Homo sapiens: one gene and its partners. The protein of the gene in region 2 interacts with the protein of the main gene of each other region in a biochemical or structural test. Each region holds a gene or a part of one and is shown on either strand. Other genes may lie near its edges.

Region 1 (7,028 bases), on a different chromosome or scaffold from region 2:
AAAACAAACAAAAACCCCCTAGGTCAAACAGTATTCTTTGCTTCAGTAATAATATAGTGCCTCATTCTCTCATTTGCCAATTAGTTTCCACACCCTTGGCCCCCACCCTGCAAATACTGAGAAAACGTTCTTTTTAAAAAATAAGATGACTTACTTTTCTGTCTTGAAGAATATTGCACAGCCATCAACATGTTTCCTTTCTTGTTCTGACATTGTCCTAGCTCTAGACTTAGGACTGAAGAATCCATTATAGCCACGTTCTTTCAGCTCTACCAGAAAAAAACTGTAATACTGTTCCGTTTCAACCTCCTGAAAAGTTGTAAACAGCACAGTTATTTCATAAGACAAAAATTAGTCTGCATATTAACTTCTATGTATAGTTTGAGAGCTTGAAATAATTTCAAAGGACTGGTCTGCAGATTAAAGAATGTAACATCTTTCCGGGCCGGGCATGGTGGCTCATGTCTGTAACCCCAGCACTTTGAGAGGCCGAGGCGGGCGGATCACTAGAGCCCAGGAGTTCCAGACCAAGCCTGGCCAACATGGCGAAACCCCATCTCTACTAAAAATACAAAAATTAGCCAGGCATGGTGGTGCATGCCTGTAATCCCAGCTACTACGGAGGCTGAGAATCACTTGAACCCAGGAGGCGGAGGTTGCAGTGAGCTGAGATCATGCCACTGCATTCCAGCCTGGGGGACAGAGAAAGAGCCTGTCTCCCCACCACCCAAAAAAAAAAAAAAAAAAAAAAAAAAAGTAACATCTTTTCAACACTATTTATCTGAAACCAACTGGAACAGCGACTTGTCATTTTACAGGTACTAGGTACCAAGGGCAACTCATTGTTGTTTAAGAACAGTGAGTGAAAGACACACTTCTATGCATGTGTATTTCCTTATGTCTTAGAACTGAGGTGGAACAAGAACCACAGAGGTCGACGAACTTTACAAATCATAACTTCAGACCCTTGGGCAGAAAGTAACATGTTCAAGATCATATGAGTGACTATGAGAGTTGCACTGAGAACCCAAAATGTTCGTGTACCAAGTCAGTCCTTTTTACACGGTGCCTTAATTGTTCTAGCAACATGGTCGGCAATGCAAGTTATAGCTTGACCACGCTAGAATTTCAGTAACTTTGCCACCCAATTCAAAAATAGTGCAGGGACGCTGGAGGGAGGAGGAAGGTGAGTATTTAGCGGTCATGGCAAACGCATAAATCCCAGCTTAACACATTTGCCTATTTTGCAACATAGCACTGCAAAGCAAAGCAGGCAGTACTCCCAGGATTCACTAATAACAGAAAAAAGCAGTACTTTAAGAACTACTGAAGCTAAAACTTCAAATGTGTCAGCGTAATGTATTCCTAGTTGCTCCTTCCTTTATCAATGCTAGGTTGACTGTCTTCTGTCTGACTTACCTGAAGACTTACGATATCAGCATTGCAGCTCAAGATTTCTTGAATAATGGCCTTTTTCCTGTAGTCCCAGTTTAGCGCCCATGATGGACAGTAGCCGTATAACTGCCGGGTCGCATATTTATCACAAAGAACATTATAGCACATGACAGAAAACAAGGCTGTAGGAAAGATAACTTTACTTATTCACACATGTGGCAGAAAAAAATATATAATTAATTTCAGTAATGGTTTTCACTTAAATGTTAAGTTTGACCGTATTCATTCAATCTATAGTCACTGAAAAGCTACTGTACGCCACATATGGGGGATAAATAAAAGACGGATAATGCAAGCAGGATAGATAAGTGAACAAGTTAGAATACAATGTACTACCTGCTACAGAGGTAGGCACAGAAGGTCTGGAAGTGAAAAGTCTAAGCTCGTGAGCCCTTCAGTCTCTGAGCCTAACATTCCTCATTTCTATACTCCTTCTACCATGCTACCAACTGTTAATGTAAGATGTGGAAACTGGATAGGTAGTATCCTTAATAGGCATGCCTCATTTTCTTCTACAGCACAACTATTGTTAATTCATGCAAAATGAAAACGGTATCACAGACCAAATTTTGTTACACGCACCATGAAAGCTCCCAAACTATTTACATAGAATTTAGGTTAAAAGGAGATGAGCAGTCATTAGTTCCACTTTCCTCTAAGTAAGGGTTTGGCTCTCTTATAACTCGGTAGTGTCAAATCCATTTGGAACATGCTAGGATTTGGAAACTTCTCATAGAGAAAAATTTGGGTGTATTCATTTTAAGTGAATTTCATCAGTACACTACAGAAGGGTTTCTCAACCAGAGTCGCACTACTGACATTTCAGGTGAAGTCTGTTGTGGGGGCCTGTGCCGTGTACTATAGAATGCTGAGCAGCAACCCTGGCCTCCATCCACCAGACGCCAGCAGCACTTCTCCCCAGTTACGACCATCAAAATTGTCTCCAGACATTGCCAAATGTCCTCTGGGGGATAAACTGCCCGTTTGAGAAGCACTGCTTTATAGCACACTTTCTATATAGCACAATGTAGTATACATAGAGGTCATGTGAGCAAGAATTCTTTTTTATTACCTCCCAAACCAAACCAACCTTAAACATTTTGTCTTAATGCTACCTGTAATCTAAGCATGCTGACAATACTGTTAGGCTTATAGAGACTGAGCAAAAATAACAGTTAAAAAATAAAAGACTACCAACCAGTTGGCCTTGTCCTATCTGGTTCTTGTAACATAATCCAAGACCTTGGAGGTGGTTGTTCTGTTGTAACTAGTTGAATAGAAAATACAGAATTAAGCAATATTCTTACACGTCTTCCTAATAAAAAGGTTTAAACAAATAACCACTTACTTCTTTTTGCAGTACCTGACAAATTATCAAGCAAATAGTTCAGCAGCCGTCTTGTTCCATCTGGTTCCTGATAAAGGTTCAATATATCCTGGGTAAGGGGATTTCCTGGAAATATTTTTGAAATAAGTAAAATGAAACTAAGTAATAAAATGTTTCAAAATTTTAAAATGTATCAAAATTATCAGATCATCCATAACTATGTTATAGTTACTAGTAAGATGTCAGACTATAGAAAATATTGTTTTTTCAGTTTCTGATATAAGTAAAAATGATTCATACCATGTTCTATATACACATTCAAAACATAATGTTAATGGGCTGATGTCAATCAGAAATGCACTAGCAGTGCTCTATATCTGACCCTGCCTTGCCAACACTTTCAATAATACAGATGGTTATAACAAACAAGAGTGAGCAAAACACGAACGGGGCAGGCAGGTGACTGGGAGAGTGGGTGGGCAGAGGAAACAGTGAAGGGAAGGATGAAAGCCAGCGTAATGCATCAGAGAATCAAAACTCTACAATGTCACAAAGCTAACAACAAAACACCCTAATGACAAATATACACTTGCACTTAGATTTTTTAAAGTCATACTGAACAAAGCAACAAAATGGGGCTGACTTGGCTTAAGAATTAACTCACTAAGGAGGGGGAAAAAATCCCAGGGCCATGAGCCATCTGTAAATTCAATAACTGCTTTGTTCCAAAATGAGAGCAAAAACAATGATTTACATATACCTACAAGAATCTCAAATCCTCTCAGAAGGGTTTCTTATGTACATGAGAAATAAAAGTACAAATAACAACAGTGCAGCGCAGGGTTTCATGGAGCAAAGTTCCTATCCATCCTACACAAGCATTGTGTATTATTCTGGATGCCACAGCGCCATTTTAAGAAAACCAGACAAATTCTGCAGTTTGAAGAAGGCAGATAAAATGGTCAAAGATGTTAACCATACCAAATGAAGAAAAACTAAAGGATATGGTAGATAAGAATGATCAAAACCTAAAGGAAGTGTTTTTTCCTATTCTCTCATAAAAGACTGGACTCAAAGAGCAGAAGGAAGACATGCCTGTAATCCCAGCACTTTGGGAGGCCGAGGCGGGCGGATCACGAGGTTAGGAGATCGAGACCATCCTGGCTAACACGGTGAAACCTCGTCTCTACTAAAAATATAAAAGAAAAAAAAAGCAAAAACAAACAAAAAAAAACAGCCAGGCGTGGTGGCGGGCGCCTGTAGTCCAGCTACTCAGGAGGCTGAGGCAGGAGAATGGCGTGAACCTGGGAGGCAGAGCTTGCAGTGAGCCAAGATCGCGCCACTGCACTCCAGCCTGGGCAACAGAGCGAGACTCTGTCTCAAAAAAAAAAAAAAAAATTTAACAGGAAAGGCCAAGGCCGAATAGAAGAGGTTGGCAAACACTGTTAACTATTTGAGACACCCTGTGCTGTGAGGCAGTGGAGTATCCTTCAAAGAAGCTGAGTTGCATGGATGGGAAAAATGGCAAAGTTCATTTATCTTTAAGATCTTTCGGTTTTAAGATTCTAGGATTCTAAGAATTATAAAAAGAAAAATGTGCTGCTCTAAGTGCAAAGTAGGTATTTGCAGGAAGGCAATTACAAGAGTACCATTCTCTCACGTGTGTGTGGTTCTTTATACCCACCACAGCCTTTTCATGTTTTCACTGAGTCACAATCCCGTGAGATAAGCAGTTACAACCTGAAGCTTATCAGGACCCTTTGTGAAACACATCTTGAGAAAATGAAGTCAACTGAAAACTTCTCGGTATCAGGTAAACAGCTCATTCTAACCAGACCTACAGTGATGCTGTTTTCTTTTTCTTATTTTTTTTTTGAGATGGAGTCTCGCTCTGTTGCCCAGGCTGGAGTGCAGTGGCACCATCTCGGCTCACCGCAAGCTCCGCCTCCCGGGTTCACGCCATTCTCCTGCCTCAGCCTCCCAGGTAGCTGGGACTACAGGCAGCTGCCACCATGCCCGGCTAATTTTTTGTATTTTTAGTAGAGACAGGGTTTCACCGCATTAGCCAAGATGGTCTCAATCTCCTGACCTCGTGATCCACCCGACTCGGCCTCCCAAAGTGCTGGGATTACAGGTGTGAGCCACCGCGCCCGGCCAGGACTTCTTTTAAATTGAAAATTAATCTGCTCTTCACTACTTGGAAACAGAAAACAATATATATGAATAAAGTCAATAACAATAAAATTCTGGAATTAAAACTATACTGAGTCCTGAGAAAGAACAAAAAAGTAAATGAGAAGTTACTTTAGGGTAGATGGAGTAAAAACACTTTTCCCTATTCTTCCCACTAGGTACAACTAAAAGCACTGTATATTATGTGTAAAGCAAACACAAAACTCTGAAAAAAGGAGAGAAGGCAGAATAGCCAAAGACTGCAGGACCTGACGAACGGCACAGGGATGAGTTCCCTGGGTTCACTTTTTGCCTCAGATATGCCAGACATGCAGCTAAGAAGCCAGTAACATGGAAATACCAATGGGTACAGACCCAAAAGAATCCCAACAAAAGCCAAAGGACCAGGGAAGGGCTGCCTAAAAGGACAAAAGTTTTAGATAAGAACCACTGTACTCAAGCTTAACACTAAAGAAAAAAACGTGGTCCCATCTCTACCCATGCCAGCATGAGCAAGTGGAGAGGCTGGTAGACTTCTGCTGCAAGAGAAAGAAAGGAGGCGATATGGAGCTCCCTTCCTCCCTCTGAGGTGGTGTCAGAGGAGGCCAAGGAGAGTCAAGACTTTCACCATCTCCCTGCAATAAAGAGGACACGCCAGTGCGGTGCCTGTGGAGGCCGCGTGAAGAGCCAAAACTACCACCTCCACCAGAAGCAACGAGGAGCCCCCACTCCCAGGTGTCAGCGAAGGCCAAGTGGAACCTGAACTTCTACCTCCACTGGCAGTAAGGAGACAGTGCCTGGTTCCCTTGTCACAGCAGTGCTAGGCAAAGAAAACCAAACTAAAGGGTTTAAACAAGATCTAGAGTTTCATAACATGAGTGAGTCCAGTTTCAAATGAAAATAGCTCATCACACCAAGACACGAAGATATCAAATGCAAAAAGATAAACACAACTTCCAACCCTGAGATGACAGAAACAGAATTACCCAACCAAGACAAAGGAATCATGACAAAAATGCTTCAATGAGAAATTAAAAACATGCTTGAAAACACACACACACACACACACACACACACACACACACAAAACACACAAGAAAACAGGAAGACTGAGCAAAGAAACAAAGTTCAGGCAAATAAAACATTTAAAACCAAATGGGAATATTAGAACTGAAAAATAAAATAAATGAAGGCTAGGCACAGTGGCTCATGCCTATAATCCCAGCACTTTGGAGGCTGAAGCAGGAGGATCACTTGAGGCCAGGAGTTCGAGACCAGCTTTGTTAACATGGCAAAATCTCGTCTCTACAAACAAACAAACAAAACTAGCCAGGCATGGTGGCACATGCCTGTGGTCCCAGCTACTTGGGAGGCTGAGGTAGGAGAGCTGCTTGAGCCTGGGAGGTCAAGGCTGCAGTGAGCCAAGATCGTGCCACTGCACTCCAGCCCGAGACCTCGTCTCTTGATTGACTGATTGATTGATAGATAGATAAGAACACAGACCAACACCACCACCACCACCAACAACAACAAAAAGAACAAAGTCTCTGGGGCTTGTGGGACTATAACAAAAGATCTAACATTCATGTCATCAGAGCCTTGGACGCTGAGGACACGGAGGACAGGGCTGAAAAAGTACTCAAAGCAATAATGGCTGAAGATTCTCACAATATGGCAATAAATATAAACCAACAGATTCAAGAAGCACAGTGAACCCCTACACAAGAAAAACCCAAAGGAATCCACAGCAAGACACATCATAATTAAACTTCTGAAAACTAAAGACAAAGAAAAAACATCTTGAAAGCAGCCGGAGAAAAATGACACCTTACCTGCAGGAGAAAAACAAATTGGAATGACGAAAGATTTGTCATGATAAGCCATGGAAGCCAGAAGGAAGCAGCAAAATATTTTTCAGGTGTCGAAAGAACTGTCAAACCCAGATTCTTATATCCAGTGAAAACATCCTTCAGGAATGAAGGAGAAATAAAGACAATCTCAGAGGACAAAAAACTAACAGAATCTGCTGCCAGCAGATCTACCCAAAGGGAACCACTAGAAAAAGTTCTCTAAA
Region 2 (7,028 bases):
TTCAGCCTTCAGTCGTAAATTCTCCCTCACCAGACCACCATTTTCCAATTTCAATTTTTTATTTGCCTAAAATAACAAATTGAAAATAAGTAAGCAAAAGCTACAATAAAAGTGACTTGTAAAAATTACAACATGAGCCATCCGTATTTTTTAGAGTGATAATATCAGAAAACTGAATAGTAGAACATGGCCTTCAGAAACTTAAAATCACTACTGGGAATGACTTCAGAAACTGAATACTACTGAGCATTTTAAAACCATATTCCCCAAGCACTTTGCAAATCTCCTGTCCAGGGAAATAAACAAAACTATGTTAGTTAGCTTAGAGTCATTAAGGGACCATACTAATGGCAAATGTATGTGTGATTTTTTTTCTTTTTCACATAACTGAATATTCTAGGCAAGGTAACATTATACCACATGCAATATCGGCAAACTAATGCTGAAGAGTTAATTCTTGAGCTTTGAAATTGATTTCTGGGGTGCTGTTTAAAAATTTTTTTCTAGTGATAACAAATCTAATATGATTTAACCACTTGATTTTTTCTCTTCAAAAAGGCTTTTCCAACGTTCTGGCTCACAACTTCTAGGGCCCTCAAAATTGGATCTATCTATCTATCTATCTATGTATCTATTTATCTATATTTTTTGAAAGAGTCTTGCTCAGTTGCCCAGGCTGGAGTGTAGTGGTGTGATCTTGGCTCACTGCAACCTCCACCTCCAGGGTTCAGGTGATTCTCCTGTCTCAGCCTCCCGAAGAGCTGGGACTACAGGCATGTGCCACCATGCCCAGCTAATTTTTGTATTTTAAGTAGAGACAGGGTTTTGCCACAGTGGCCAGGCTGGTCTTGAACTTTTGGCCTCAAGTGATCCACCTGCCCCAGCCTCACAAAGTGTTAGGATTACAGGTATGAGCCACTTGCCAGGCCTGGATCAGTATTTTCTAATAAATTCTATGAATTGTTCTTCGATTAAAAAAAAAATCCTTCCAAGTATGATTTTCTTTCTTGAATTGTATAACACCTAAAAATTACCTAACAGGACACCAATTGCTAGAAAATCTAGAGGCTCAACACTGATTCTGGACACACTGAAAACTAGTGTGCTTAAATTTTAGAGTCTTCTTAGAAGCTACTTCCTTTAAATTCCCTACTCATTGCTTTTATGTATTACAAAGAAAAATAACACTCCCTAGACTAGAAACCAACCTCACTAACCTGGGAAAGGGAAATTCTTTGACCAGAACATTTACATTTAAAGTGAATGGGTCACAAGAATAACTGTCACCAAAAAAGGTTTAAACCAAGAAGCCTTTAAAACGTATTTCAAAAATTTGGCTATTACTTAGATGAATTTCAAGAACTTCTGACTGTATTACTTACTTACCCACATAAGCTGCAGCACAAGGATCACAGAAGAAATAAGGTAGAGAACATTATTTGGGGGCATAAAGTCTAACTCCCTGACTTAGACCCATCCAGGTTCCCTCTGGGCTCTAGGCACCTGCTTATCTTCATGAATGCACACCAACCAGGACTGTGGAGAGTTAATTCTTTAAGTGACTGATAAACACCATTACTGCTTCTCTGAAGATATAAGGAAAGCCATTTACTTCCTCATATATGCAGACAATGAATTAAGCTCTCAAGCACAGCACCATAAGGGGAGGCATTTAGTGAATGCTTTTTGATGATGATGACAAGCTTAAATTAGAAACTCATTTGATTTCCTTTCCCCTTCCCTGCCCCCCACCACTACTGTATGGCTATGTTTCAGTCTCTCAACAGTCCTTTGACTCTCTAATACTTCTCATTATAGGCTGGCTAGTTCCTCAACTATCAGAGATCTTTTCAAGTTCAAGAAGGTTAGGTGAATAAAAGTTATGAAGGGCAGAGTTCTGCCTACCTTTTGCACCTAAAAGAATAATGAATATTTCAGCTAACCCTTCTGCATTCTCAACACTGATTGGGTAATGACACTGGCCTCACGATGGTTCAAAACTCACCCATTCCAGGTAACATCAGAAAAAAAGTCCACTTCATTCATGCTAAGTAATCCTTTATTCTGAATCTTTTGTATTCCTGTATTTGATTATGTTGAGTATGTTATTACTCCACACTTTAGTTTTTATCTCTGCAGTCCATGTTTTTTCATTCACTTATGTCCCAGTTTATAACCTATTACCTACTAGCATCACTAGGCATAGAAAATGGGCTTATTCAATATCCCAAAGAATTCTGAAGTCCCAGGGTAGCTTTGAGTATTGAATTTAACATTTGACCATTAAAAGAGCAAAGGAAAATTAACTGTGCTTTATGTATTCTTCTTTAATATCCATCCCTCATATCACCCTTATAAGCCTCATGTTCTAAGAAATATTTACTGCCAAAACTTTAAACGAAGTTTAATAACTACAAAGGAGATCATATAGTGCTTACCAATGGCTCAAGAAGAACCAGGGAAATTAAAGGGAACAAGGCAAATTGATAAATACTGTAATTTCCGAGTTGGCATTCCTTTTAGTATCCTATTGTCTTCTAACAAATCAAGGTACTAACACTGGTCATCAATACCCAAAGAAACTATGCACTTCTCCCTCCTACACACTTATAACAAACTCAGTACAATTATGTCTGTAGTTTCTTTTTTATCTAAAAGCACTAGGCTCTCTCTTCTCCTCACCCTGGCCTTTTCTGAGCCCAAACAACATTTATTTTATATGTGGAAGATGGCTTACATCTAAGTTGCAAGTATTTCTCTGCTACTTAACCTGAGGACCTGAGAGCCAATATACAGGGGAACTCCTTTAAAATACCATATGGAGCTCATTAATAATTTTGAGAGATAAGATTTAGTAATTTCACACAGGAATAGTATTTTAAGGAAATGCAAATAGTTGAATATGTGATTGTAGAACTGAGTACTACAAAGCCATCTCCTTTCAGCACAAGAGGACTCCACTGTGGATAAACTTGAACTCAAGCTAAAGGCTGATCACTTGGGTCAAGATGGTGTTGTAGGAGTTGCCTGTAACATCTAGTGCTGATGGCATGGATCTTATCTCCCTTTCTAGGCCGAAAAATCCTAGAGGTTTGCCTTTTTCACCATGCTGTATCTCGTTCAAAGAAAAACTGAAAAAAATGAACCAGTTTCATAAATCACAACATTCTTTTGCATGAGGTACTCTGAAGCAGCTGCTTATTGCTGTCCTGGAATTAGTCACCAAGTCTTTATCTATCTACAATCTTAAAAATAAGAGAGTGGTAGCAAAAGAAAAGATAAGGTCAAAACTTTTCCTTTCATTGGTGCGAAAATGGTTATGTGTTTGTTTTTAGGTACACAGGGGAAGTCGCTGATATAAGCTTAAAAAACCTATGGCAAACCACAAAGAGGACGAAACAGAAACACATCCTTTAAATTGGTATTATTCTTCTAGAAGAAGATGCAATCTTATACAGAAGCACAACAGTCTCTAATTATAGTCACACATGGAACCACCTGATATTTCTTGGCAGTTAATGATATTTAAATAAGAAAAAGTCTTCTTATTGCATATAAATGCTCATCCAGAGATTCTGTCCTTTCCTCACAAATCATCTGATGATGAGTCAAGATAATATGGCTATTTATGCTTTTGAAGGTACTTATTTTAAAAACAACCATAATAGATTTTTAAAAACCACAACTTACCTCCTTTAGCTTATCCACATCATCTTTCACTTTTTCATAGATTTCATTAGCTGTTCTGAGTTTTTTCTTCCACTCTGCTACAGTTTCTGGGTTAATTTTACTTGGATTATCTGTGACTAGATGTTTGTCTTCATTTTGGTTGCCCTGCACCAAGGTTAAAGGATCCAGAATAGTTTTGATCTGTGACTCCAAGCTGAGATTTTTACTCTTAAGCTCTTCTACTTCTTTCTGTAAACAATCTATTTCGTCCTGAAAAAGCATTGCATAGTCATGAGGCAGGCATAGACACTAAACACATACATACATATGCTAAACTGAAGCCAACATGGTTTGAATTTTGTACTTAAAATTCTGTAGATACATAGATTCTTTACATATCAAAAGAGTTTTGCAGGGAGAAAGTCACATACAGTTTAAATTCTCAAAATGTGGCCTGACTGATAAAAATTGGGATTTATGTTGCCTTCATTTTAATTCAATGTTAGTTGTGATTTTTAAAAATGCCAAATCTTTGATTCTATTTAAGATATCATCCAGGTGGAGAAATAGGAACACTTTTACACTGTTGGTGGGACTGTAAACTAGTTCAACCATCGTGGAAGTCAGTGTGGCGATTCCTCAGGGATCTAGAACTAGGAATACCATTTGACCCAGCCATCCCATTACTGGGTATATACCCAAAGGACTATAAATCATGCTGCTATAAAGACACATGCACACGTATGTTTATTGCGGCATTATTCACAATAGCAAAGACTTGGAACCAACCCAAATGTCCAACAATGATAGACTGGATTAAGAAAATGTGGCACATATACACCATGGAATACTATGCAGCCATAAAAAATGATGAGTTCATGTCCTTTGTAGGGACATGGATGAAATTGGAAATCAACATTCTCAGTAAACTATCGCAAGAACAAAAAACCAAACACCGCATATTCTCATTCATAGGTGGGAATTGAACAATGAGATCACATGGACACAGGAAGGGGAATATCACACTCTGGGGACTGTTGTGGGGTGGGGGGAGGGGGGAGGGATAGCACTGGGAGATATACCTAATGCTAGATGACGAGTTAGTGGGTGCAGCGCACCAGCATGGCACATGTATACATAGGTAACTAACCTGCACAATGTGCACATGTACCCTAAAACTTAAAGTATAATTAAAAACAAAAACAAAAACAAAAACAAAACAAAACAAACAAACAAAAAAAAGATATCATCCAGAAAATAAGAAAAGTCACATGAATTCCAACAGGGAAGTAGATTCCATTTCAAAAAAGAACAAAAAAACAAAAAACTTGAGGCATACTCAACTGCTTTACTGAGGGGAATTTGAAAGTACATTGAGGGGGGCCGGGTTAAAAAAAAAAAAGGTACAGTTTGTCCCCACCTCATCCCCACATCTACAGGGGATTGGTTCTAGGACCCTTAGGGATACCAAAATCCATGGATGTTCAAGTTCCTGATGGAAAATCACTAGTGCTGTATTTGCATATAACCTACATACATCTTTCCATACATTTTAAGTCATCTCTAGATTATTTATAATAACCAATACAAAGTAAATGTCATACAAATAGTTATTAAACTACATTATTTTTATATATATTTATTTTTTTAATTTTCAATCTTGGTTGTTTGAATCCACAGATGATGAATCCTTGGATATGGTGGGCTGACTGTACAGAGTTATCAAGATGATCGTGCCTGTAATCCCAGCACTTCGGGAGGCCAAGGCAGGTGGGCCAGCTGAGGTCAGGAGTTCAAGACTAGCCTGGCCAACATGATGAAACCTCGCCTCTACTAAAAATACAAAAAATTAGCTGAGTGTGGTGGCAGGCACCGGCAGTCCCAGCTACTTGAGAGGCTGAGGCAGGAGAATTGCTTGAACCCAGGAGGCGGAGGTTGCAGTGAGCCGAGATCATGCCATCTGCACTCCAGCCTGGGTGACAGAATGAGATTCTGTCTCAAAAAAGAAAAAGAGGATTGTTAGGGTTTTGATATTTATACTTTCACTTCTATATTTGAAGTATGAGTGAAACCATCTACCATTTCCTTCTACTTTTCATTCCAGAATAATATCTGTAGTTAATTTTGAATTTTCAACTTTTCTGGATTCTGGTTCTTCAATTACTACTGTGACTATTGCAAGTATTAGCCTTCCCACTCTGGAAATGTTTATTATCCTAAAACCAGTCACTAAACATTTGGGTTAGAACTTCTTACTATGATGCCATTTATTCATCTATAATAAATATGTCACCTTAAATTGAGGTTGTTAAAAATTCTGCTAGAAAATAAACCCCCAAGTAGCTCAAGTGATCTCCCAAAGGATTAATTTGTTTACCATCTGAGTATGATAAATATTCATTATATAAAAATACATTTTAGCATTAAATGTCACACAGATAGTACTACTTACTATTTTAAATTGCAATACATTTCAACTTAAATAGCATTTTCATAAAACAAGCAAATTCATATATGTAAGGAACACATATATGAATAAACATATATTCAATCATGTATTTATACCCCACTGCATTCCAAAAATTTTTGAGGCAGTTGAGGCACCTTCCATGTACACAGTTAAACTGAAAGATATTTTGAGTCAAGAGGGGATCGATATCTCCTTCTTCAGTCAACATAAAATGACAACTGGGCTTAATGTGTACTATTCAAAAGTGTATGTATTCTATTAGCATGAATTTATTTGTAAAAATAGCATCACCATGTCCAATCATCCTGTTCATTCACCTTTAGACAATAATTAGGAAACAGCATGTTTCACACTAAAATCTCTGTGCTGGCAGTTGACATAAGGTATAGTATTTACTTTACTAGAATTGATCAGGCTTATAATCATCAGTAACTTCATAGGCAGAAGCAACTGATGACTGCAGAGGTCAGACTGGCTTTCACAAGGAGATTTCCTTTTTCTCCCAACTTCTTGAGGAAGCAAATACAAAATGATATGTCTGTGGAGGTACAAATTTTAACTTAAAAAAAAAAAAAAAAGAAAGAAATGCTTCCATCTGTTCCTTTTTTCTGGAATCCCATTCCCCCATTCCTTGGTACTTAAAGAAAAAAAATAAAACAAAAAATCTCTTTCCTCTATTTAAAATACGAAAGGAAAAAAGAAAAAAGAATTTATCAAACAATTTCTTTTTATAGGCTTTTAAAATAAAATTTCATTGGATATTTACTCTAAGAAGTCTGGGGACTGAGGTAGGTCAGTTTTTACCTTGAATTCACTGCTAACATAATTTTAAACTTTGATTACTGTTTACCTCATATTCTTTGTGTAGTAATTCAAGTCTAGTTTTCCG
Region 3 (7,028 bases), on a different chromosome or scaffold from region 2:
AACCTCAAATGGTTTATTCACTAAACCATATTCCCTCCACTGGACAAGAGGAGCTGGAGAAATGGGAAAGCACACACTTCGCAGCCCAAAGAATAAGCCATTTGTAACAAGCAATGTTACAGAATTGAGCATCCTGCCCAGTAGTGTAGAAATAAAGGAACAGAAATTCAAATCAATAATATCAGCATGGCCAGCACGGTGGCTCAGGCTTGTAATCCCAGCACTTTGGGAGGCCAGGGCAGGAGGATCACCTGGGGTCAGGAGTTTGAGACCAGCCTGGCCAACATGGTGAAATCCCATCTCTACTAAAAATATAAAAGTTAGGCTGGGCGCGGTGACTCACACCTATAATCTCAGCTCTTTGGGAGGCCAAGGCAGGCAGATCACGAGGTGGGGAGTTTGAGAGCATTCCGACCAACATGGTGAAACCCCCATCTCTACTAAAAATACAAAAATTAGCTGGGCGTGGTGGTGCGCACCTATAATCCCAGCTACTCAGGAGGCTGAGGCGGGAGAATCACTTGAACCCAGGAAGCAGAGATTGCAGTGACCCGAGATCATGCCACTGCACTCCAGCCTAGGCAACAGAGCAAGACTGCCTCAAAAAACAAACAAACAAACAAAAAACTGAAAGAAGAAAAAACAATATCAGCATGCTTTAAGGAAGCTAGGCAAAGCAGAATATTGCCACTGCTGATGAGTATTTTGTTTTCACATCTAAGAGGAGGAGTTTTTATGCATAGAAAAGACTGAGATTTACTCTAGTTTTAAAATATTAATACTTAATTTATTAAAGTTACAAATTCAAAAAGCCTAGATTTTACTCAAATTTTTACACCGAACTTAGACAACTTATTCTACTTGGAGGTCTAATTTTAAAGGCCTGTGATGAATGTCTAAACTCATTTCAAAGTTCACCTTCAACATAACATCTTCAAACATAAAATGTTAACTACTTAAAAAATTTTACCAAGACTACACTTTCAGGGATCATTTCTACAGTTTGTTACTGGAGAAGTTTCTCTGAAAGTGTAGAGTACCAAACACTTTTTTTAAATTAAAAAAAAAAAAAATTTATCAAGTGAGAACTATTGCAACCCCCCCACCAAACCCCAACAATATATTCAATTTTAAGTATAATTGCTAGACTTAAAAAGACAAAATTTTTGTATTTTAACATGTGTCAAGAAAAAAAAATTTCCTGAGAATAACTTACATACCTAAAAAATTAAACTTATAGTGACTCTTAGGTACTCTCTAATGTCCACAAAATAAAATAACTGCAATAAGGTTTCAATTTAAATTCACAAGTATAAATCAATATTCAGTCAATTATACATTTTAAATTGAAATCATAAGACTAATATAAGTGCCGGGCATGGTGGCTCACACCTGTAATCCCAGCACTTTGGGAGGTCAAGGTGGGAGGATGGCTTGAGCTCAAGAGTTCAAGACTAGCCTGGGCAACATGACGAAACCTCATCTCTACAAAAAATACAAAAGTTAGCCAGGCGTGGTGGCGCATGCCTATAGTCCCAGCTACTTGGGAGGCTGAGGTGGGAGGATCGCTTGAGCCTGGGAAGTCAAGGATGCAGTGAGCAGTGTTCATGCCACTGCACTCCAGCCTGGGTGACAGAGTGAGACCCTGTCTGGAAAAAAAAAAAAAAAGACCAATATATTACTCTAAATTCTAATATTAAAAACACTTACTCACGCCTGTAATCCCAGCAATTTGGGCAGTCAAGGCAGGAGGCTTGCTTGAGTCCAGGAGTTTGAGACCAGCCCGGGATACATGGCAAAACCCTGTCTCTACAGAAAAACAGAAAAACTGGCCAGGTGTGGTGGCATGTACTTGTAGTCCCAGCTACTTGGGAGGTTGGGGTGGGAGGATCACTTGAATCCGGGAGGTCGAGGCTGCGGTGAGCCAAGATCATGCCCCTGTACTCCAGCCTGGGCAACAGAGTGAAAGCCTGCCTCAAAAAAATTAATTAAATTTAAAAAAGAAAAAAAACCACTTTAAATATCAAACATAGGTCACTACCACATCAACTCCTTGTTCTGAAAACTGGTAATTGAAAATAATGAATTAAGCTTTTAGCATTTAACATGGCTTTCTGGGAAGACTAACAGTCAATATGGGAAAGCTATTCTTTTTTGTTGTTGTTTCTGAGACAGGGTCTCACTTTGTAGCCCAGGCTAGAGTGCGGTGCTGTGATCACGGCTCACTGTAGCTTCGACTTCCTGGGCTCCAGTGACCTCCTACCTCAGCCTCCCAAGTAGCTGGGACTACAGGCACGCAGCAGCACACCAACTAAGTTTTTTCAATCTTTTCGTAGAGACAGGCTCTCATGTTGCCCAGGCTGCTCTTGAACTCCTGGGCTCAAGCGATCTGCCTACCTTGGCCTCCCAAAGTGCTGGGATTACAGGCATGAGTCACTGTACCCAGCCCAGGAGAGCTACTCTTTAAAGAAGAATATTCACTAACAAAGGTAGAAACTACAATAGAACTAGGTAAAAATCATTTTGTAACCCTCAATAATACAACTGATTGAGGAAAGAATCAACAACAGTGGATATTTACGAAATGCCAATTACTCCATAAATTACCTCTAACTGAAAATGGAAAAAGATGTTCCTGTCAGCACCTCAAATTGATCAAATTTAGCATCACTAATACTGGATAACCTGACATTATGTACTTTATACAGAAAATAAAGTATATAACATCACCTACAAAGTTTCTCAAAAATATGTTGAACCTATATCTAATCAAGCCTGTAGAAATAAGTTAGAGTTTAAGAAAATACAGGAGATAAAGCTGGGTGCAGTGGCTTACACCTGTAATCCCAGCACTTTGAGAGACCAAGCTGGGAGGATTCCTTCAGCCCAAGAGTTTGAGACCAGCCTGGGCAATATATTGGGACCCTGTGCCTACAAATAAATTTTTAAAATATAGCCATAGCTGGGACTACAGGCACATGCCACCACACCCAGCTAACTTTCTGTATTTTTTGTAGAGACAGGGTTTTACCATGGTGCCCAGGCTGGACTTGAACTCCTAGGTTCAAGCAATCCACCCACCTCGGCCTCCCAAAGTGCTAGGATTTATAGGTATGAACCACCATGCCTGGCGGGAAATTGGCTTTTTTTTTTTTTTTTTGGTGACAGGGTCTCACTCAGTCACCCAGGTTGGAGTGCAGTGGTGTTTATCTTGGCTCACTGCAACCTCTGCCTCCCAGGCTCAAATGATCCTCCCACCTCACCCTCCCTTGTAGGTGGGACTACAGGCATGCGCCACCACTAATTTTTTACATTTTTGGTAGAGACAGGGTTTCACCATGTTACCTACGCTGGTCTCTAACTCCTGAACTCAACTGATCCTCCCACCTCAGACTCCCAAAGTGCTGGGATTACAGGCGTGAGGCGCCATGCCTGGCTGGCAGGAAATTTTTAATATATTAAAACATGAATTGTCTAAACTATGACAATGGCATCATGGTTACATAGGTGAATGTCCCTATTTTTAAGAAACGCATGTTGAAATATTTAGAGATGAAGTGTTATGATGTTTATAACCTATTTTGAAATGATTCAACATTAAAAGTCATAGCTAGAGCCAGGTGTGTTGGCTCACATCGGCACTTTGGGAGGCCGAGGCGGGCAGATCACTTAAGCTCAGGAGTTCAAGACCAGCCGGGCCAACATGGTCAAACCACGTCTCTACTAAAAATACAAAAGTTAGCTGGGCATGGCCAGGCACAGTGGCTCACGTCTGTTAATCCCAGCACTTTGGGAGGTCGAGGTGGGTGGATCATGAGGTCAGAAGATCGAGACCATCCTGGCTAACACAGTGAAACCCCGTCTCTACTAAAAATACAAAAAATTAGCCAGGCATGGTGGCACACACCTGTAGTCCCAGCTACACAGGAGGCTGAGGCAGGAGAATCACTTGAACCCAGGAGACAGAGGTTGCACTGAGCCGAGATTGCACCACTGCACTCCAGCCTGGGCAACAGAGTGAGATTCCATCTCAAAAAAAAAAAAAAAAAAAAGCTGGCTGTGGTAGCGTGTGCCTGCAAGCCCAGCTACTCGGGAGGCTGAGGCAAGAGAATCGCTTGAACTCGGGAGATGGAGGTTGCAATGAGCAAAGATCGTACCACTGCAGTCCAGCCTGGGCAACAGAGTGAGACTCCATCTCAAAAAAAAAAAAAAAAGTCATAGCTAGTGATAGAGGAAGCAAATATGGTAAAATATAACAATTGCTGAATGAACTAGGGGGTAGATATATAGATATTCATTTTATTTTTTAAATTTTTTAGGTGTTTGAAATCATTCATAATAAAAAGTTGAAAAAATACCAAATAAGTCTGGGCGCGGTGGCTCATGCCTGTAATCCCAGCACTTTGGGAGGCCGAGGCGGGCGGATCATGAGGTCAGGAGTTAGAGACCAGCCTGGCCAACATGGTGAAACCCCTTCTCTACTAAAAATACAAAAAAACTAGCCGGGCATGGTGGCATGCACCTGTAGTCCTAGCCACTTGGGAGGCTGAGGCAGGAGAATGGTGTGAACCCGGGAGGCGGAGCTTGCAGTGAGCCAAGATCGCACCACTGCACTCCAGCCTGGGCAACAGAGCGAGACTCTGTCTCAAAAAAAAAAAAATTATCTGGATACAGTAGTACACACCCGTAGTCCTAACTACTCAAGAGGCTAAGGCAAGAGGATTGCTTAAGCCCAGGAGTTCATGGCTGCAGTGAGCTATGATGGTGCCACTGCACACCAACATGGGTGAAAGAGTGAGACCCTGTCTCAAAACAAAACAAAACAAAAAAACCAAAAAACTCAGAGCCTGAGATTATATCATTTAACCTGTTACCATACCTGTGAGGTAGATACTTTCATCGTTCTCATTCTACACGCAGGAAAGCTGAAGCTTAAAAAAAAGACTTCTTGAAATTTGCCCAATTTCCCACAAATACCAAGTAGTACAGCTAGGATGAACCTAAACTATCTGATTTCAAAGCCCCTACTCTTATCATTCCTTACCTGGATCAGTTAAATATAAATCAGATCACACCATCATGCCCTTATTGAAAACTTCCACTCTCTTCCCATTAGTTAAAATGAATTCAAACTCCCTCCATGGCCTGTAACGCCCAACATACACCAACTCCTGATACAACTGTGACTTTATCTCTTGCCATGCTGCCTTTGCTCCCTATGCTATAAATTATGTGTATTGGCTTTTTTGTTTTCTGTTTGAGACAGGGTCGCACTGTCACCCAGGCTACAGTACAGTGGCACAATTATAGCTCACTGCAACCTTCAACTCCTGGGCTCAAGCCATCCTCTCATCTCAGACTCTGGAGTAGCTAGGACTTCAGGGTCACGCCACCATGCCTAGCTAATTTTTTTTTATTTTTTACGGAGACAAGTCTGGCTATGTCGCCTAGGCTGGTCTTGAACTCCTGGCCTCAAGCGATTCTCCCACCTCAGCCTCCCACAGGTGTGAGCATCTATGCCCAGCCTTAAATTATGTGTTGAGTGTCTCTTGTCAGATATTGTTCTAGGGACTAGAGCTAGAACACAACTAACACAGACAAAAGTCTCTATCTTCGGGGAGCTTGTATTCAAGGGGTCTGCTTGATGTTCTTTAGACATTTTCCAAGCAAGGGTTCTGTACATTTGCATATTTGTTGCTCCTCTTACCTGGATCATTCTTCCCAACACAGCTGGCTCTTTATCCTTAGGGTTTCTGTCTAAATGTCAACTCTAAGAAAGCCCTTCTCTAATCTATCTGAAAAACAAGGCTTTCAGTCATCCTCTATTCTTTTTTTTCTTTTTCTTTTTTTTTTTTTTTGAGATGGTGTTTTGCTCTTGTTGCCCAGGCTGGAGGGCAATGGCACGATCTTGGCTCACTGCAACCTCTGCCACCTGGGTTCAAGTGATTCTCTTGCTTCAGCCTCCCGAGTAGCTGGGAATACAGGCGTCTGCCACCACGACCAGCTAATTTTTGTATTTTTAGTCAAGACAGGGTTTCAACATGTTGGCCAGCCTGGTCTCAAACTCCTGTCCTCAGGTGATCCACTCACCTCGGCCTCCCAAAGTCCTGGGATTACAGGTGGGAGCCACAGGCACCCGCCAGCAGGCCCTGCTAATTTTTTTGTATTTTTAGTAGAGACGGGGTATCACTGTGTTAGCCAGGATGGTCTCGATCTCTTGACCTCGTGATCTGCCACCTCGGCCTCCCAAAGTGCTGGGATTACAGGCGTGAGCCACCACGTCCGGCCTTTTATTTTATTTTTTTGAGAGAGGGTCTCATCCTGTTGCCTGGACAGTGGCGTGATCAAAGCTCACTGCAGCCTTGAACTCCTAGGTACAAGCAATCCTCCCACCTCAGCCTCCCTAGGAGCTGAGACTATAGGCACACACCATGATATCTGGCTTTTTATTTTTTAGAGTCAGGGTTTCACTTATGCTGCCCAGGCTGGTCTCAAACTCCTGGCCTCAGGCAATCCTCCCACTTCAGCCACCCAAAGTGCTAGGATTACAGGTGTGAGCAACTGCAGACAGCCTCTCTTACTCATTTTTTTCTTCTGAGTATTATTTTTTTTTTTGAGATGGAATCTCACTCTGTCACCCAGCCTGGAGTGCAGTGGTGCGATCTCGGGTTGCTGCAACCTCTGCCTCCCAGGTTCAAGCAATTCTCCTGCCTCAGCCTCCCAGCTAGCTGGGATTACAGGTGTGCGCCAGCATGCCTGGCTAATTTTTGTATTTTTAGTAGATGGGGTTTCACCATGTTGGTCAGGCTGGTTTTGAACTCCTGACCTCAGGTGATCCACCCCCCTCAGCCTCCCAAAATGCTGGGATTACAGGTGTGAGCCACTGCACTTGGCCTTCTTCAGAGTATCTATCACAACTTGAAATCATCTTATTTTTCATTTTATTTACATGCTTATCTGTCCTTCATAGTAAATAAGCTCCAGAACAGAGACTTTGTTTTGTTCCTGCCCAGTTCCTAAAGTAGTAC
Region 4 (7,028 bases), on a different chromosome or scaffold from region 2:
CTTCAGCATTAAGTTTGAAATTCTTTTTAGGTATATAGATTATGAAGCCATGGTTAAGATACGGTTTTAATCTAAATTAAATTCACTTTAATAATGTAAAAATAAATTTCTTGATGGAGAAATAGTTCCATTTAAAGATAGCCATCATCACTTAAAGATGTTTTCAGCATAGTCAAGATCCACTATAATACAAAAGTGATTAAAATACTTTGAACATACAGCTCCACTGCAGCTAAAAGTTGTAATACGTCTCCTCCATTCATGTAATAGAGATAGAAGAGAAGGTCTTCACCATATCGGCCAAGTTTTATTGCAGCCAGCTGAAAAAGAAAAATAACTTATTCTGAAATATAAAACAAATCTGCAAATCCTAATATATAGTTGCTACTACTAAAGAAAAAATGGAGAGATAAACAGAAACTCCCCACTTTGTAGTAGATAACTGTTATTACATGATTACACAGATAGGTAGTTAAGATTCTAAAAGGGAATTTCCTCATTTAAATGACTGAAGTCATTTAAACAATTATTTCTGATACATCTAATTGATATGCTGACTGGAAGAAAAGCTCAATAAAGACTTCCAAGCAAGATCCACTAAAAGGATTTAATACCCAATGGGGAAAAGAACCTAACAATAGCATTGTGCTCAGAGATCTAGGACTTGTATTCAAGTCCTGGTTTTATTACTCATTAATATGACTGTGTCCTAGTTATTTAAAATCTCTTAGCTTTACTTGTCAAATGTGGACAATGACACCTATGAGGGTTACTAAGAAAGTAAATAAAATGAGTGAAGGTATATGAAAGCACCTTGTAGAGTGCCAAATATATAGACGGCTTATAAAAAATGTTAAACTGAATCTATATCTGACAGTGAATGATTCACAAGTCAGTTGTATGCTTTCAGCAAATCACAGATGATGAATACAAAAATCATAAAGAAATGGCTTTTCAGTTTGTTTAAATAGATGTCTGAAAGATGATTGCTTTACATTTCTCTCCCCAAGGTAGAAACATAACTGCTTACCAAACTGTAAAACATAGGTTCAATAGTCTCAAATTTTCACATTTAAATAAACCTTAAAAGTGTCCCAAAACAACATTTTTATCTCGTTATTTGATCCTATATCGAAATACTTATTTGGTTATTACACATTCTCTGAATGTAATTTTTCTCTCCATTCATGTTATCCCTATTCAGGCAGCAGCCCCAATGTGACAAATTCTCCTAAATTAGTATTTCTCAAATTGGTAATAAGAAAAGGTTCTGGAACACTTTGGTAATTGGAGCGAAAGAGCTCTACAGTGGTGGTGGGAGCAAATCACACAATCCGCAAATAGAAAATAGGAGACCTCTCCATCTTGTATTTCTTGCCTTTTATCTACTCAAGTATTAGAAGACATTGAGAAAGGTATCCCTTTACTTGCCTGTCCACATCAACATCCACTTGACCACAGAACTGTAAGGCACACTCAGAATGCTGTTGTATATATACACATACACATAGATATTTATACACAAATATATAACAAAAATATATTTTTTCACTAAATTGTAGTTTCCCAAGGCTAAAATTTAGGTACCATTGTGAATATTTTTTGGTAATAGAAACAAACTCTCAGTTCTTCTAAAGCAAAAAGTGCCACCATTTTCTTTCTTAGATTGAAAAAAGAGAGATTAAGCTGTAATCTGTTGTTAATAACTACTTTAGAATTAGAATTTTAGGTGATTTAAAAAAATGGAAATGAAAAAATACAGAGAAAAGTCAAAGGTCATAAATAGTTTTTAAAGATACAGACCATCTCATTAAAAACACTGTATCTGTAATACTTGTAACGAAAATCTTTTTACTGGTAAGGTCATAAAATAAGATTATCAGAAGGATATTTATCAAATGTTCCAATCTAGTTTATTCTCATCAACTGCGGTTATGGTTGTAACCTGTTGTTAAATGTAAGAATTTTTATTTTTTACCAGTCCTAACATTTACCATTTAACAAGTTAACATGGACATATGAAAGCATATCCCTGAGACCATTACTAATTATTTCAAAAATAGTATGCTGCCTGAACTGAAAAACATGTGAAAAATAGATAAATTCATGCTGACTGAGTAGAATAATAAACTACACTCACCTTATCCCTAATGTGAATGTTCGTTAAGTACTCAGATGGAACATGGAAGTCTGGATAATAAAATGAAAAAAGCCTTATTAACTGATTCTCAATTGTAAATTTCTTTTTAAAAGGTCTAAACACAAATAGATTCTCCTACCTATGTCTTGAGGTCGACAAGGTGAAGATGCCCAGGGTGACGCAAATTTGGGGTAGAGATTTCTGAATAAGGAGGAAAAGAAAACATTTTGAAATCCAGAAAAAGAGATTTCTAATTTTATTTCAGGAAAAACAAAGACTCCAACTGTAAAATGACCATCTTTACTTCTAATTCCCTTACTTGGGTTTACTGACTTATACAGAAGCAAATGAAGACTGTGTGTGTTTGTGTGTGTGTCTGTAAAATATGATAGGACTCCTTCCCTCAGTATTCTTGCAATACAGTATAAATAACACAACATATCACAATATACAAAACATGATTAAAAATTTTCTACTTTTACTTGATTTCAACTCAAGATGCTTTAAATTCTTCAATACCATGCTCCCAATATAAATTAAATTTTAAATAAATTTTAAATAAATTTCCCATTTATTTGTGTGGCAAGAAGAAAACTGAGTAACTATTTGCAAAAGTTTAAATTCATCAAATATTTACTGAGTGCCTATTATATGCCTGGCACTGTTCTAGGAGCTTACGACACATCAGTGAGCAAAACAAGATCACTGACAACATGAAACTTACTTTCTGGTTGAGGATGGTGGATTGGAGGGGGACAGACAAAATCAATTAACAGAATAAATAAATAAACAATGGCCCATGTTAGAGGGGAACTGGGAGGGGAGACTGGATGCATAATTATTAAATAGGGTGGTCAGTTAGGTTTCATTAAGGTGGTCAGATCTGAAGATTTGAAGGCTATAAGGGACATAGTCATATTAATTATCTGGCAGAAGACTCTTCTAGTCTGAGGGAACTCCTAGAGCAACTAAGGCAGGGACATGACTGACATGCCTGAGATATAACAAGGTGGCCAGTGAAGCTGGAATACAGTGAACAAAGGGAAAAGCTGTTGAGGTGGGGTTAGGGGACAAACAATAATCATGTAAGACCTTGCAGGCCTGTGAAGATTTGGGGTTTCTGGTCAAGCGCGGTGGCTCACACCTATAATTCCAATACTCTGGAAGGCCAAGGTGGGCAGACCACTTGAAAAGTGAGGAGTTAAGAGACCAGCCTGGCCAACATGGTGAAATCCCGTCTCTACTAAAAATACAAAAATTAGCTGGGCATGGTGGCACATGCCTGCAATCCCAGCTACTCAGGAGAATCGCTTGGACCTGGGAGGTGGAGGTTGTAATGACCCGAGATTGCATCACTGCACTCCAGCCTGGGCGACAAGAGCAATACTCTGTCTCAAAAAAAAAAAAAAAAAAAAAAAGATTTGGGGTTTTTAATCATAATGAAACCACAAACATTTACTGGGTGTTGAGCAGAGGAGTAATGTATTAAAAAAGGATTGTCTTGGCTGTTATATGAAGAGATTGTACGGGAAGGGGTATAAGGACAATCAGGGACCCCCAGTGACTGGCTAATGGAGTATTCAGGCAAGAGAGAATGATTCAAACAAGGGTGGTAGCAGTTAAAAGTAGTGAGCTTTGGTTAGATTCTGTATATATTTTGGGAAAAGCCTGATTATGGGGTATAAAAGAAAGAGGAGTTAAGAATAATGCCAAGTTTCTGGAAGTACAGAGTTACCACTAACTGAGATTGGAAAGGCTGTAGACAGAATAAGTTGGGGGGTGATCATTCAAGAAATATTTAATTGGCAATTGAATGTAGAAATCTCAAACTCAGAAGTGTGGAATGGAAACATATGTTTGGGATTCCTCAATATATATGGTATTTAAAACAATAAGACTAGAAAAAGATCATCAAGGATGTAAATGCAGAGAAGAGGAATGACACTGAGGTCAAGAAGAAAAGGAGGAGGTACCAGCAAAGGAAACTGAAAAAGACCAACCAGTGAAGATGAGGTAAAAATGGTGCTCTCAAATTCAAGTACAAGAATGTGTATCAAGGAGCAAGAGTTCCTCCAAGTGACCACTGAATTTAATAACATGAAGGTCATTTGGTGACCTTGATAAAAGCAGCTTTAGTGAAGTGGCAGGGACAAAATCCTGACTGAAATGGGCTTACCAGAGAATGGGAGAAGACCAAGTCGGAGAAATGGAGATGACTCTTTGAAAAGTTTCGCTTCAAAGGGAAATAAAGAAATGGGAAAGTAACTTACGGAGGAGGTTGGATCAAAGGAAGATTTTCTTCTAAGATGAGAGAAGTAACAATGTATTTCTATGTTGATGAAAATGACCCAACAAAGTGTGAAAATGTGTTGTAAGTAGAACGCATGGGTCAATTATGGTAATAGGGTGGAAAACAAGAATAACATAGGTGTAGGTGGCTGTAGGTAGTCAGATTTGTTGGCTAGACTGTGCTAAATGTGCTCTTCTAATTGCTTCCATCTTTCTTAGTACAGTAAAAGTGAAAAGCAAGATCATCATTTGATAGTAAGAATAAGGAGAAAAGGTATTAGGGGCATGCAGAAGTGTACGATAGTTGCATAAGAGAGCAAAAGAGTAAATGGACTAAGCATGCAAGGTATAATTATCACTGGTAGAATTAAGAGCCTACTTTTGAGGCTCCTGGGCATGAAAATAAAGGAAGACCAGGCAGTGATATCATGTGTTTTTCTCTAGCAGAGCTCAGTAGCACAGGTCAGGAATGAAATAGGCAGAAACAATCAGTACTGTAGCTTTGGCCATGCAAGTATAACAACATGAGAAAATGGCAAGTAGTCATGGGATATGTAAATGAACAATTATGACTGACCACAGAATTTCATGGGTAAGAAGGGAGTTGATCACAGGGGAAAAGAGACGGGGATCTGGAAGAACAGTTAAAATACCGAAGAATCAATAGATTGAAGGTCCCAATGGAGTGAAATGATTACAGGAATCACAGTACTAGAAGAAGAGAAATAGAAAATAGAAAGTGGAAGTCGGAAAGCATGCGAGCTCAGATTTTAAAATTGAGAGACTGCAGTTACGAACAATGACTAGGTCAAAGGGATAACTAAAGGAGTGGCTGAAGTATACTACAGGACAAAAATTCCTGGAGGAAAGAAATTCAAGGAGCTGAGATTTCAGGATTCTGGAAGGTGTGTGTGTGTGTGTGTGTGTATATATATATATATACACACACACATATATACATGCACATGCACACACACACACACACACACACACACACACACACATAAAATGCCAAATTATAAAAGGAATACTGCAGAGTGACAGTGATCTAAGAGCTAACATGAATGGGAATGACCCAGAGAATCAGCAGGTTAACAATGAGTAGCAGTAGGTGAGATAATTTGATGACATGATATTAAAAACTGGAAGTCTGAAGAGGTATTATATACAGACATGGAAAAACAGAAAAAACTTACTCAGGAGAGTTCAGATTGAGGCCTAATGTTGTTAAGTCACTTCCTAATGCAAGATGTACCATTCCTGGGTCTGTCTCTGCTGCCCTGATAAATGTTAACAGGCCAATCATTCCAAATTGGTCCGTCACCATCCCTTGAGGAATGTTAGTAACCCGACCTGGGTAGGAAAAACACAGTTGCTTTTATTTTCAAGAAAAAGTTAAAAAATAGAAAAAAAAGCATTCTATAATATCTTTGACATAGATTTCTAGAGTCCCACCATCAGGTAACACCTGGATCCCTTTTTTCTGCTGGTTATTATTTTGTGTTGTTGAACTTTTATCTCCAGGGAATTTGGGTCCATCTGTACTTGAAGTTGTCTTGCCAGATGTATTCAAATTCTAGCATGAAAAAAATTAAATGTGACATTAAAATTTGTTAAGTATACAAATTCAAGTTCACATATTAATACCTTGCTATTTATTCTTTATTACATTTAAATTGGTAGTTAAATTATTACCTGTTTTTCAAGTTCTATAGAAAATTGTTTCCATCATTGTTCCATGGTATACAAATAAATCCTATATCATCCACATTTGAGTATTTAAAGAAAAAGAAATCAAGGGAAAATATCTTATTTATCTCAGATCTTCAGTCACAGAAAAAAAAAAATCTATCTCTTTCTCAGGTCTTTATGCTTTGGGATACACTTGAAGTTACACTCCTCAATGCTTTCATGTAAAAGAGAAACTAAATATAGTATATTACCTAAAATCACCAAAGCTACCTTGAAGATAAGTTAGACATACAAGCTTTAAAACTTTGTACTTATTTTAATTCTTACCGATCTTCTTTATCAATTATTTTAATAATATATAAACTCCCATCACACACAGAGAAAAGCTATTTTCAGTGAAATGTGGAAGAAATAAACATATTTGTTAAGTCAGAAAGAAGAAGCTGAGTTGGTTGAATCAACACAGGTATAAAAATGTGTATAAATTCTTCAAGGAGAAAACTTACTCAAGAAAAACACAGCTCCTTAGAAGGCTATATTATCAAACTTCATGGGATCCAGCTGACAGGGACTACAATAAAAGTCTAAATTAACTCTGAGAAGTTCAACAGAAATTTGCAAACCTATATGAAATAGGAAAAAAATAGGCTATCTTCTAAGTTATAAAGCTTTTCCACATTCTTCAGAAGTTAGGTTATTACAGATATCAAGATAAAACAGTTTTGTAATAGTATTTAGTAAGTAATTGTTAATATAAGAGAAATCTGAAGGGAAAAACTACATCACTCACATACACACTTCTCAGTTACTTACAGATTTACTGTCATCATTACTTGATGTTGGATCTTTATAGCTGGAGCCTGGTAATGCTGGAAAATCTTCATTGTGTATTGAGAAGTCCTGGGAT

What was found.
Region 1: the proteins of OBI1 (region 2) and CNOT6 form a complex in vitro, tested with the Homo sapiens proteins (one study listed by BioGRID).
Region 3: the proteins of OBI1 (region 2) and CNOT10 form a complex in vitro, tested with the Homo sapiens proteins (one study listed by BioGRID).
Region 4: the proteins of OBI1 (region 2) and CNOT2 form a complex in vitro, tested with the Homo sapiens proteins (one study listed by BioGRID).

The regions. Positions count from the first base shown.
Region 1 is NC_000005.10:180,560,369-180,567,396, reverse strand, and holds part of CNOT6 (CCR4-NOT transcription complex subunit 6), read right to left. Parts: intron 2,909-7,028; coding exon 2,804-2,908; intron 2,723-2,803; coding exon 2,654-2,722; intron 1,578-2,653; coding exon 1,420-1,577; intron 310-1,419; coding exon 155-309; intron 1-154. UniProt on the Homo sapiens protein: Poly(A) nuclease with 3'-5' RNase activity.
Region 2 is NC_000013.11:78,635,133-78,642,160, forward strand, and holds part of OBI1 (ORC ubiquitin ligase 1), read right to left. Parts: coding exon 6,990-7,028; intron 3,940-6,989; coding exon 3,691-3,939; intron 67-3,690; coding exon 1-66. UniProt on the Homo sapiens protein: E3 ubiquitin ligase essential for DNA replication origin activation during S phase.
Region 3 is NC_000003.12:32,688,184-32,695,211, reverse strand, and holds part of CNOT10 (CCR4-NOT transcription complex subunit 10), read right to left. Parts: intron 1,049-7,028; exon of another isoform or gene 972-1,048; intron 1-971. UniProt on the Homo sapiens protein: Component of the CCR4-NOT complex which is one of the major cellular mRNA deadenylases and is linked to various cellular processes including bulk mRNA degradation, miRNA-mediated repression, translational repression during translational initiation and general transcription regulation.
Region 4 is NC_000012.12:70,337,420-70,344,447, reverse strand, and holds part of CNOT2 (CCR4-NOT transcription complex subunit 2), read right to left. Parts: coding exon 6,935-7,028; intron 6,693-6,934; coding exon of another isoform or gene 6,663-6,692; exon of another isoform or gene 6,029-6,662; intron 6,006-6,028; coding exon 5,885-6,005; intron 5,783-5,884; coding exon 5,626-5,782; intron 2,342-5,625; coding exon 2,280-2,341; intron 2,191-2,279; coding exon 2,141-2,190; intron 338-2,140; coding exon of another isoform or gene 321-337; coding exon 220-320; intron 1-219. UniProt on the Homo sapiens protein: Component of the CCR4-NOT complex which is one of the major cellular mRNA deadenylases and is linked to various cellular processes including bulk mRNA degradation, miRNA-mediated repression, translational repression during translational initiation and general transcription regulation.